Regions from separate parts of the Homo sapiens genome. Here region 2 is linked to region 1. Evidence: fine-mapped expression QTL. A gene starts in region 1. The other region holds a variant in brackets. All regions are shown on one strand. Distances are between the middles of the regions. Region 1 holds the start of UTP4 (UTP4 small subunit processome component). Region 2 overlaps TERF2 (telomeric repeat binding factor 2).

Evidence for each region. PIP is the estimated chance that this variant, and not a neighbour inherited with it, causes the effect.
Region 2: its variant is the best candidate, but not a certain one, in a credible set for the expression of UTP4 in fibroblasts (GTEx, PIP 0.51).

The regions. Positions count from the first base shown.
Region 1 is chr16:69,129,975-69,135,450 of GRCh38, forward strand. UTP4 (UTP4 small subunit processome component) reads left to right here and starts at 2,675. Exons shown (of 17, transcript NM_032830.3): 1 at 2,675-2,715; 2 at 3,484-3,644. The coding sequence starts at 3,486. DERPC (DERPC proline and glycine rich nuclear protein) reads right to left here and starts at 2,614. Exons shown (of 3, transcript NM_001002847.4): 1 at 2,510-2,614. CHTF8 (chromosome transmission fidelity factor 8) reads right to left here and starts at 2,614. Exons shown (of 4, transcript NM_001039690.5): 1 at 2,510-2,614. RefSeq lists silencers at 2,194-2,343, 2,364-2,723.
Region 2 is chr16:69,371,479-69,376,478 of GRCh38, forward strand. TERF2 (telomeric repeat binding factor 2) reads right to left here. Exons shown (of 10, transcript NM_005652.5): 4 at 791-877. Among named protein-coding and RNA genes, the nearest start is that of TERF2, 12 kb to the right of the region's middle. RefSeq lists an enhancer at 48-547. The variant C/T (reference allele first, on the strand shown) is at 2,534.

The sequences.
Region 1 (5,476 bases):
AGCTTTACCCTCTGCTCCTGAATGTGAAAGTCAAGAGAATAGAGGACATTCTTTGTCAAGTATTCATTTTAATCTTCCACAGAATTTAATTCTTACCCTCTGGTCTCTGAATTGTTAAATATTAAATTGTTAAAAGATTACTGTCTTACAGAGAACAGAACAGCCTGAGCAATGATCCTCATAATCCTTCAAAATAAAATGTGGCAGAAGAAAGTGTGATATGTATCCAATTAAACCGAACATATGGCTTATAGCAAAAAAGAGGCTTTGACTCAACGGTTTAACCTCAATACAAATAACTAAATTTTAATAAAGCTAAACAACGTTTTAGAAATTTTGTTTTTTTTTCAAACAGGAAACCAAGCCTTTAAATTCTCAACCCTTAAACATTCTTTTCTAAACTGGGGTGAAATCAATTATTTCAGAGTGTAAATATTCACAATTTTCTATTTTTTGCTAGGCCAACAGTTGGCATTTATTGAGCTTTTGTTTTTTGATCCCAGGGTGGATACTTTGTTTACGAATATAGTGAAGCACTCACTTGTCATACAGACCTGGATTCTGTGATTTTGCCACCTATCCCATATGTGACAGTGGGTAGTTTAACCTCACGTGTTTTCCTAACAATACACTGGGCATAAACACCTATTTTGAAAGGCTGTTGCAAGAACGAGTAATGAATGTAAAGCTTTTAGCACATTGTCTGACACATGGTAAGCCTTCAGGGTCAAGCTATCGATTTCCCAGAGAAAGGTGGCATTTTCTTAGTATTCATCAAATAGAATGTCTTAATACTACACTGTGTTAGCATATTAATGTTTATAACGGACTAAAGCATTCTACGAAAGCAGCAGGTCATCAGAATAAAATCAAGTTTTCATAACAGTAGAATTCAAACATGGCAGTTGTGGTTCACCAAACTGCTTCAGGGATTAAGTTCTGGAAGGTAATTTCTCTAAATATGATGACTATGTCTCTATGTGCCTTTCTACCAAGTGAACAACTCAGAACGTTTTACATACAACCGAATACAGATTATTTTTATTTGTAGTGTTATCGTGGTTTTGTAACTGAAGGGGACAGGTCTATACTTTTGAAGGGGATCTTGTCTCTTGAAAGGCTTATGTTACTAAGTCTAAAATCCTGTTTCCAAATGAGAATCTTGCTCCCCTCCAAAAAGGGGCTTATGGAGGGTTGGTGGAATTGAATGCTTCCAAACTTTACATTAGTGAAGTGTGTTCAAAAACGTGTGTGGATGCTATGCATACACGTGATACTTCCCATCACATTTTAGGATTCCCACGTTGGAGGGAATCAATTACTGGTATTTGTAGCAATGGGTGGAAAAGATGGCTTCAGTCGATCTGAGTTACTGCAGTTTTCTCCATCTTCTGCTACTCTGCAGCCCCATCTTAGCCTGTCCTCCTCTTAATGGTACGGCCCCCTGTACTCCCCCAAACCCTTTCCTTTCTAGCCCGGCGTAGAGTCTCCCTCTGTGCTCTTCCTCCCACCCACCCCCATCTTCTCCACCCACTCCCTCTCGGCCCCCTCCCACCCTTTCTGCTAGAGCTACAAACACTTCCTATTTCTAGTCCCACCCACTTTCTGGGACTTCTCAATCCGCTTCCCCCCTCTTCTCCACCCCCCTCCAAATTACAAGCTGTTTTAACCCCTTTTCCTGCCTCCCAGGGAAACTATTCTTTAAACCGCCTTCCTCCACACCACCCACTGGAGTGGTCTTCCAAACCGTTCACCCTCTTCCCAAAGATTACTCTTTAAACGTCCTTTCTCTACCACCCTCGTTCTCCAAATTGTTCCCGGTTCTCAAGTACTCCACTCCTCCAGGACCCCACCCCACTCGTCTCTCGGCTTCCCTCCCACAAAAGAACCTGGAATGACTCTCCAACCACCCTTCCAATTACCTCTCCCAGAAGCCTCCCCCCTCCACGATTACAAATGTTACCTGGAACAAAACCTCACGGTCCTAACCCCCACCCCGAACTCCCCTTTCTGCTCTTCCCGCTACTTCCTAGGTTCCAGTTCTACTCCGCTCCCGCAAGCATAGCGGGCTGGGCTCCCTCCCAACCCCGGGAAGAGCCCCTTCCCGCACGTACCTCGAGATTCCGGCCCTCGCCGCCCCCTTCTCCGTCCTCCGCCCGCGCTCGGCCACCCTTTCCGCCCTTCTCCCGCTCCGCCCCGCTCGCTCCCTTCCTTCCCTCCGCCTTCCGTCTCCACACCGCTCCCTTCCCCCACACTCCTGGCCCTCCCACCCCGGAGGCCCCTCCGGGCTTGCCCCCACCTCCGCGCCGCCCTCCCGCCGCCCTCCCCCTTCCCGGCCACCCCTCCCCCGCCCGCGCTCCCCGCCCCTCGGCTCGCCATTCTTCTCTCCGAGCCGCGCGCCCCGCCCGGCCCCGGCTCCCTAGCTTCCCGCTCCCTCGCGCCCTCGCCCCCAATCCCGGCTCGGCCCTCGCTCCCCGCAGCCTCCCGTGCCCCCCGCCCGCGGCCTGACCTGCAATGGCGGCCGCCGAGCGCGGCGCCGCGCGGCCAACGGGCGACAACCGAACCTCCCGCCGCCGTCGCCGCCGCCGCGAGCACTGCCTGCGCACTTCCGACTATGCGCCAGGAGCACTTCCGGGGCAGAGCCTGAGAGCGCGCGCGCACGTGGGGCCGGGGCGGAGAGAGGCGAGCACCGGGAAGGGGAGCGTGGGGCCGCTGGTGAGTTGGGGAAGGGGCGTGGGAAGCGGCTGCGAGAGCTGGGGGGGTCTTACAAGGTGGCCGGCCCAGGGTCGGCGTCCGGCTGAGCTCCTTGTCCCGAGGGTCTCCTTGTCCCGAGGCGGGGTGGGGGCTACTCTGTAGACTCGGGGAGAGGGAAGGGGAGGCGAAGACCGCGCGCGCCTCAGACGCCCCGGCCCGACCGAACGCGCTTGCTCTGTCTGCGGGTTCCTAACCTTGAAGCTAGGCCAGTGAGGGGCGAACAAGACCTGGTCTCTACTCTCGGCCAGTATATATGTTGGCGGGCGTCGGGGGGACGGGGTAGGGTAAGTGACAGACGTCAGACCAGGCAGCCAGATTAAGTCAAACCCTGTCGTTTCTTCCTCAAGAGGAGCTCGGTTCTGCCTGCCCCATCAGCCTCACTGTCACTACCTCAGTTTAGGTCTGTTGTTTGCAAACTTAGCAATAGAGTTGAGGAGAGATGCTTGCTAAAATGCGGATTCCTAGGCGCCCCGAGATAGGAACTCTGGAGCTATGGAGTAGGACCCTTTTTGATTTTTTGCTGAAGCCTCCTTATTATTCAAGCCATTCTGAGCTTTTGAAGATTGAGTAATTCTTGTGGGGGGCATTGTTAGCAGCCATTTGGAAATGAACTTCAGGGAGATGTTGTTGGAGCCTTCCAGCCAGAACAGTGATATTAAGGAACTGAATACTATATGTGACATACTGCAGTTAACATATAGCAATAATGACTCTCTTTTCGCCCCCTAGGAATGGGTGAATTTAAGGTCCATCGAGTACGTTTCTTTAATTATGTTCCATCAGGAATCCGCTGTGTGGCTTACAATAACCAGTCAAACAGATTGGCTGTTTCACGAACAGATGGCACTGTGGAAATTTATAACTTGTCAGCAAACTACTTTCAGGAGAAAGTAAGTCATTTGGGAGTCTGATATGGTGTTTTGATGTTAATTTCTTCTGAAGTTCAAGAAGCTTGTATGTCTTTTATAATCAAACTGATTGAGTGACTTCCTAGCCCCTCTGAAGTTGCTTAGAACTACCAAACTTCTGAGATCTCCTAACTGATAAGAGAAGCTCAGTTTCAATCTGTGTAATGTTGATTAGAAGGGTCCTACCTAGAAATGTGACATCTCACTGCCTGTCATTGGAAACTGAGGTTTGCTGGATCTTTTGGACACAGGAAGGGAAATTGTTGGTATATCAGTCTCAACACCATTGCAGCTTTGGTAAGCAAAATTTCCTGCAGGGAGTATCAGTACTGTTTCATTGTCAATTCAGAAAAAATGATAACACGTTTTAATATCAGAAACTTTTTGGTGATGTGGGAAGATGGATTCCAAAGTTCATCTGTCTGAGAGAATGTAGACCTACATGTCTACATTTGGGAGTAAAGGAGATTTAAAATTAGGTAAAATGTCCTTTGGGTGTATGCAGAGGTCTATTAGTCCTTTTTCTTCTCCCCTCCAAGGGCACTGACTAGTGATTTTCTTCGGGTGCAACATCTTAGTTCATGTTGAATGACTGTTATGTACTGGGTGCTGTGATATAAATGAGTAGATGGGCAAATGAGTGAATTCAGTGCCCAGCAGCCTGGTACCTGGAATTTAGGCATTCTGTAAATGTTTCTCGGTGAATGAGTGGCAAATACTGGGCACTAAGACAAATGTCAGAGGCCCTAACTTTACGGAGCTCAAAGACCAGTGGGAGAAAGATAAGTGTACAGTTTCCAACCTGTAAAATAAATATGATAAACCGAAACACAGGCATAGAACCTTCATTGAATTGCCTTCAGGGAAGGCAATTCAGAGAATTGCCTTCCCTGAGAGGTGGGTTTAGGAAATGTGGAAAGGGATGATTTACTGAGCTCACCCCTGAAGAACTAATCAAAAGGTAAAAACTACAGGACCACCACAAATGGGTTACATTCTGTGGTATGAAGAACATGCGCTGGCGTGTGCTTATTGCATCCTGTGATTTTCTTTTTTTTTCTTTTTCTTTTTTTTTTTTTTTTTGGAGACGGAGTCTTGCTCTGTCACCCAGGCTGGAGTGCAGTGGCGTGATCTTGGCTCACTGCAACCTCTGCCTCCCTCTCCTGCCTCAGCCTTCCAAGTCGCTGGGATTACAGGTGTGCCACCATGCCTCGCTAATTTTTTTATTTTCATAGAGACGAGGTTTCACCATGTTGGCCAGCCTGGTCTCGAACTCCTGACCTCAAGTGATCTGCCCACCTCAGCCTCCCAAAGTGCTGGGATTACAGGTGTGAGCCCTCATACCAGACTGATTATCTTTTTCTTGGTCTTGTTCTTCTTCTTTTTTTTTTTTTTTAACAGTCATGGCCATATTATGATTTTTCTGTTTGTCATTTGTAACAGTTATAACTATATAATTTGTGTGTTTGTTTAATGTCTTTCTTCCATGCTGAACTTCCAATTTTATGAGGATAGGAACCATGTCAGTGATACTCACATCTGCATTCCCACCATTTATCAAGCGCCTCCTACAAAGCCACTGCTTAATGTTTCTTGAATGGATAAGTCAACCATTCCTTACCTAGTGTTCCTTATTTTCTTTTCTCCTTCATCTGTTTTCTTTATTCTTCAACAATTAATTAACTCAGGCTGGTTTCCTGCTTTCCCTATATTCCCTTTCCTACTAGATACGATTGCTTAGCTCTGTCAGTGACTCTCAGAGCAAGAAAAAATTAGTACGTTAAAGTGAAAAGAGGCAGGGCAGAGTGGCTCAC
Region 2 (5,000 bases), 240 kb after region 1:
CAACAGAGCAAGACTCCATCTCAAAAAAAAAAAAAAAAAAAAAGTATATAGAAGAAATGGTTGGGCATGATGATTCACGTAATCCCAGCACTTTGGGAGGCCGAGGTGGTAGGATCACTTGAGCCCAGGAGTTCCAGACCAGCCTGGGCAACATAAAGAGACCCTGTCTCTACAAAAAATTTAAAAATTAGCCATGTGTGGTGGCATGCAGCTGTGAACCCAGCTACTGGGGAGGATGAGGTGGAAGAACTGCTTGAGCTCAGGAAGTTGAGGCTGCAGTGAACTATGACTGCACCACTGCACCCCAGCTTGAGCAACAAAGCGAGACTCTGCCTCAAAAAAAATAAATAAACAAATGAATAAAAAGGAAGAAGAAAAAATAAAAGCAGGGGACCAACAGAACTTTTGACACCAGGAAACAGGTGCTATGTCCTCACCAAAGAAGTTTCCTCACATCTGCAGGATCACCATTTAATGTAAATAAAGTTAGAAGTGTTACATTTGTCAGCTCCATACCTGGTGCTGATCATTTAAATCAATGTTCTGTTATAAACTAGACAGAAATAAGGCAAGTGAATAATTTATGTCAATTTCTCTAATAAAAACTAAATTTTGAAAAGCCAATCTTACAGTGAGTTATCTTGGATATAAAAGATAACTTGCTGCAGGTGTTACATGTTGAAAGGAGAATATTTAAGTAATATTCCTGACCAAGAACCCTTTCCCTATTTCCCCACAAAAAGCAATGAGATGAATTTAAGTCACAGGAGCAAAAATGTATCAAATTTACCTGAGTTGTGGGGTCCTTGGACATATGTTTTTTCAAAATTTTTGAAGCCTTTTCAAATTCTTTGTTTTTGATACAAATAATGACAGCCTAAAAAGGAGGGGAAAAATCTTTTTTTACTTTTGTAATGACAGGTGTAATCAGAATATCAAACATCAAAATAACTCTCTCTCACATCATATCAAATTTCTGTACTTAAAAACTAACAATTATAAAGCCAGGCGCGGTGGCTCACGCCTGTAATCCCAGCACTTTGGGAGGCCAAGGCGGGTGGATCACCTGACGTCGGGAGTTCGAGACCAGCCTGACCAACATGGAGAAACCCCATCTCTACTAAAAATACAAAATTAGCCAGGCATGGTGGTGCATGCCTGTAATCCCAGCTACTCGGGAGGCTGAGGCAGGAGAATTGCTTGAACCTGGGACGCAGAGGTTGCAGTAAGCCGAGATCGCGCCACTGCACTCCAGCCTGGGCAACAAGAGCCAAAACTCCATCTCAAAAAAAACAAACAAACAATTATTGTTCAAGTGTTATGAACCACTGGAAGCTGTCTCTTTCTGCTTGTAAGGTAGTCACTTTTCAACAATACAATGGCTTTTGTTACATGGCTGATAGAGCAAAATCTGATCACCTGGATTACAGACCATTTAACCAATTTCAATAGGGCCTCCTGAGGAAAGACAGAATGGACAGGAGTCATTCTACGTCCTGTAATTTCAGGTCCCCAGAACAATTGATTCTGTTCTTTTTGGATGCAAAAGCTTTAAAGCAAGAGGGGGATGAGGGAGGGAGGATATACTGTAGGCGGAAAGAAAGAGATGTGCTGACCACAGAGTTCTGCTAGTTCCATTCTGGAAAGGCCTAAGGCCAGTTCTGTAGGAGAATGAAGGGACAACCCCTTACTACCATAAACCCCAGCTGGCAACTTCAATTAAAGCACCTAGGGAACTACTGAAGCCAACAAACCCAGGTCATTCACAAGCAGCAAATAAAAAGGGCAAAGTTCCAGGTAAGATAAGGTCTCACCAGCCACAGAGAGAAAGTAGAGTCCTTCCATAAAGAAACCTCAAGAGAATGAGGTTCTCTTGAGGAAAAATAACAGTGACTGAACATTTACAAGGAAGTTATAATATATATGAACATTTTTAAAAATTAGAAAAGCCAACAAAAAATTGGGAGTATTTGAAGTTATATGATAGAATAAAGTAGCTATCTCAAATCCTGTCTGAGAGACACAGATTCTTTAAAAAGACCACCATACAAAAAAAGGCAAGCCGACTGGGTGTGGCAGCTTACAACTGTACAACTGTATTCCCACACTTTGAGAGGCCAAGGTGGGAGGATCGCTTGAGCTCAGGAGTTTGAGACCAGCCTGGGGAACATAGGGAGACCCTGTCTCTCCCCCAAAAAAACCCACCTACCCAGGCATGTTGGTGTGTGCCTGTGGTCCCAGCTACTCGGGAGGTTGAGGTAGGAGGATCACTTGGGTCTGGGAGATCGGGGCTGCAGTGAGCAGTGACTGTACCACTGCACTCCAGCTTGGGCGAAAGAGCGATACCCCGTCTCAAAACAAACAATAAAAGGAAAATTGGTTCACAGATATTTTTGATCTTCACAGGGAAGAATGTACAGAGACACAGACTAAGGGGAAGAATAGCAAGGAAATTCATTAAGTACTAATCTGTTGCTTCTATCCTCAACGTGTTAAGCACAGCCATACAGGGCGGAAGGCAACTGATGTCAAA[C/T]GCCCTTGAATATGCAGGCACAGTTCTTGCTGCACAGGGAAGGTACAAAGTAAGTCTTCATTTTACTCAGATGACCATATCCATTTATACATCACTTTCAGCAGAAAAACATATGCTCAAACTATACTTACTTTCTTGAATACAAAGTTTTTACTTTTTTAATCATACAGGTCTTACTGTTTTAAAATTCTATTTAACTTGCATACAACAAAATTAACTTGTTTAGGACATCTGGTTTGGAATTTTAACACACGTAGACTCCTGTATCATCCACTACAATGAGGATCCAAAACCCTGCCTTGGCTGTCCTGTGTAGTCACACCTAACCCTGGCAACCACTGATCCCGGTGGCTCATAACTGTAATCCCAGTGCTTTGGGAAACTGAGACAGGAGGATCACTTGAGGCCAGGAATTTGAAACCAGCCTGGGCAACACAGTGAAAACCCATCTCTACAAAAAAGTAGCCAGGCATGGTGGCGTGTGCCTGTGGTCCTAGCTACTCGGGAGGCAGAGGTAGGAGGATCACCCGAGCCCAGGAATTTGAGGGCAGCAGTGAGCTATGATCATGCCACTGCACTCCAGCCTGGGCAGTAAAGCGAGACCCTCTCTCTCTTTAAAAAAAAAAAAAAAAAAAAAAAAAAAAAAAAAAAAAAAAAAAAAAAAAAAAAAAAAGGGCCAGGCGCAGTGGCTCGCGCCTGTAATCCCAGCACTTTGGGAGGCTGAGGTGGGCAGATCATGAGGTCAGGAGTTCAAGACCAGCCTGGTCAGCATGTGAAACCCTGTCTCTACTTAAAATACAAAAATTAGACGGGCATGGTAGTGCGCACCTGTAGTCTCAGGTGCTTGGGAGGCTAAGGCAGGAGAATTGCTTGAACCTGACAGGCAGAGGTTGCAGTGAGCCGAGATTGCGCCACTGCACTCCAGCCTGGGCAACAGAGTGAGACTCCGTCTCAAAAAACAAGAACAAAAAAGCCGTAAGTGTGTAGGACTTTTTTTTTAAAGGATGTAGCCTTGAGCTTGGCTCCTTTCACTCTGTATAAGGCCTTTAAGGTCCATCCATGTTGGTACACTATCAATAGTTCACTTTTTCTTGTTGTTGGGCAGTATTCCATTCCATGCATGTACTATAGTTTATACATTCATCCACTGAAGGACATTTGAGATGTCTGCAATTTATGGTTATTATAAATAGAGATGCTAAAACAGTCTCATTTACTCTAAGGTAAAACTTCTCATTTCTCTAAGGTAAATACCCAAGAATAGGATTGCATGGTCTCATGGAAAATGTGTTTATAAGAAATGGCCAAACTACTTTCTGGAGTAGCTGTATCATCCCGCATTCCCATCAGCAATATATGAGAGTTCCAGTTGCTCCACATCCTCACTAGTGCTTTTTAAAAAATAGGCTAGGTGTGGTGGCTCACGCCTGTAATCTCAGCACTTCAGAAGGCCAAGGTAGGAGGATCACTTGATCCCAGGAGTTCAAGTCCAGCATGGGCAACAGTGAGATCCCATCTCTATTTAAAAAACAGATGAAAATTGCACATACTTATGTACAACATGATGTTTTGAAATATGTAACTAACACTTTTTATAGTTAGGGTTTTTTTTTAATTAATTTTTCTTGAGATAGGGTCTATATCACCCAGGCTGAACTCAAACTCTTGGCCTCAAGCAATCCTCCTACTTCAGGTGCCCAAGTAGCAGGATTATAGGCATGTGACACCATGCCCCACTATCAGTATTTTTTAAAGTTTGGTCCATTCTAATTGGTATTTGAATCTACTGTGGTTTTAATTTGTATTTCCTTAATGAGTAAATGATGTTGAACATCTTTTCATGTAATTTTTTTTTACCATCTACATTATTTTGGGTGAGCTTTTTGCCCATTTAAAACTAGGGTTGTATAGACTTGTTTCTTTTGAGAGCTCTTCATATACTCTAGATACCAGTTCTTTGTCAGGTGTGATTTGTAAATATTTTCTCCCAACCTGTCGATTGCTTTTCCATTCTCTTAACAGTGTTTTTCTCAGAGCAAAAGTTTAAAATTTTGATTAAGTCCTATTCATCAATTTTTCTTCTTATGGATGTTTTTAAATTATTATCTAAGATTTTTTTGCCTAACTCCAGGACATAAAGATTCCTTCATGTTTCCTCTAAGTTTTATGGTTTCACATTTTACATTTAGATTATAATTTTGAGTTAATTTTTGTACAAGATGTGAGCTTATGGTCAAAGTTCATTTCTGCATATGGACATTCAATTGTTTCAATACCATTTGTTGAAAAGACCATCCTTTTCCCATTGAATAGCCTTCACATCTTTGTCAAAAATCAATCAGTCATATTTGTGTGGGTCTGTTTTTAGATGCTCTCTTCTGTTCTACTAATCTCTATAGTCGTAATTACTGTAACTTTCTCATAATTCTTAAAATTGGGTAGTATGAATCCAAATTTTTCTTTCAAT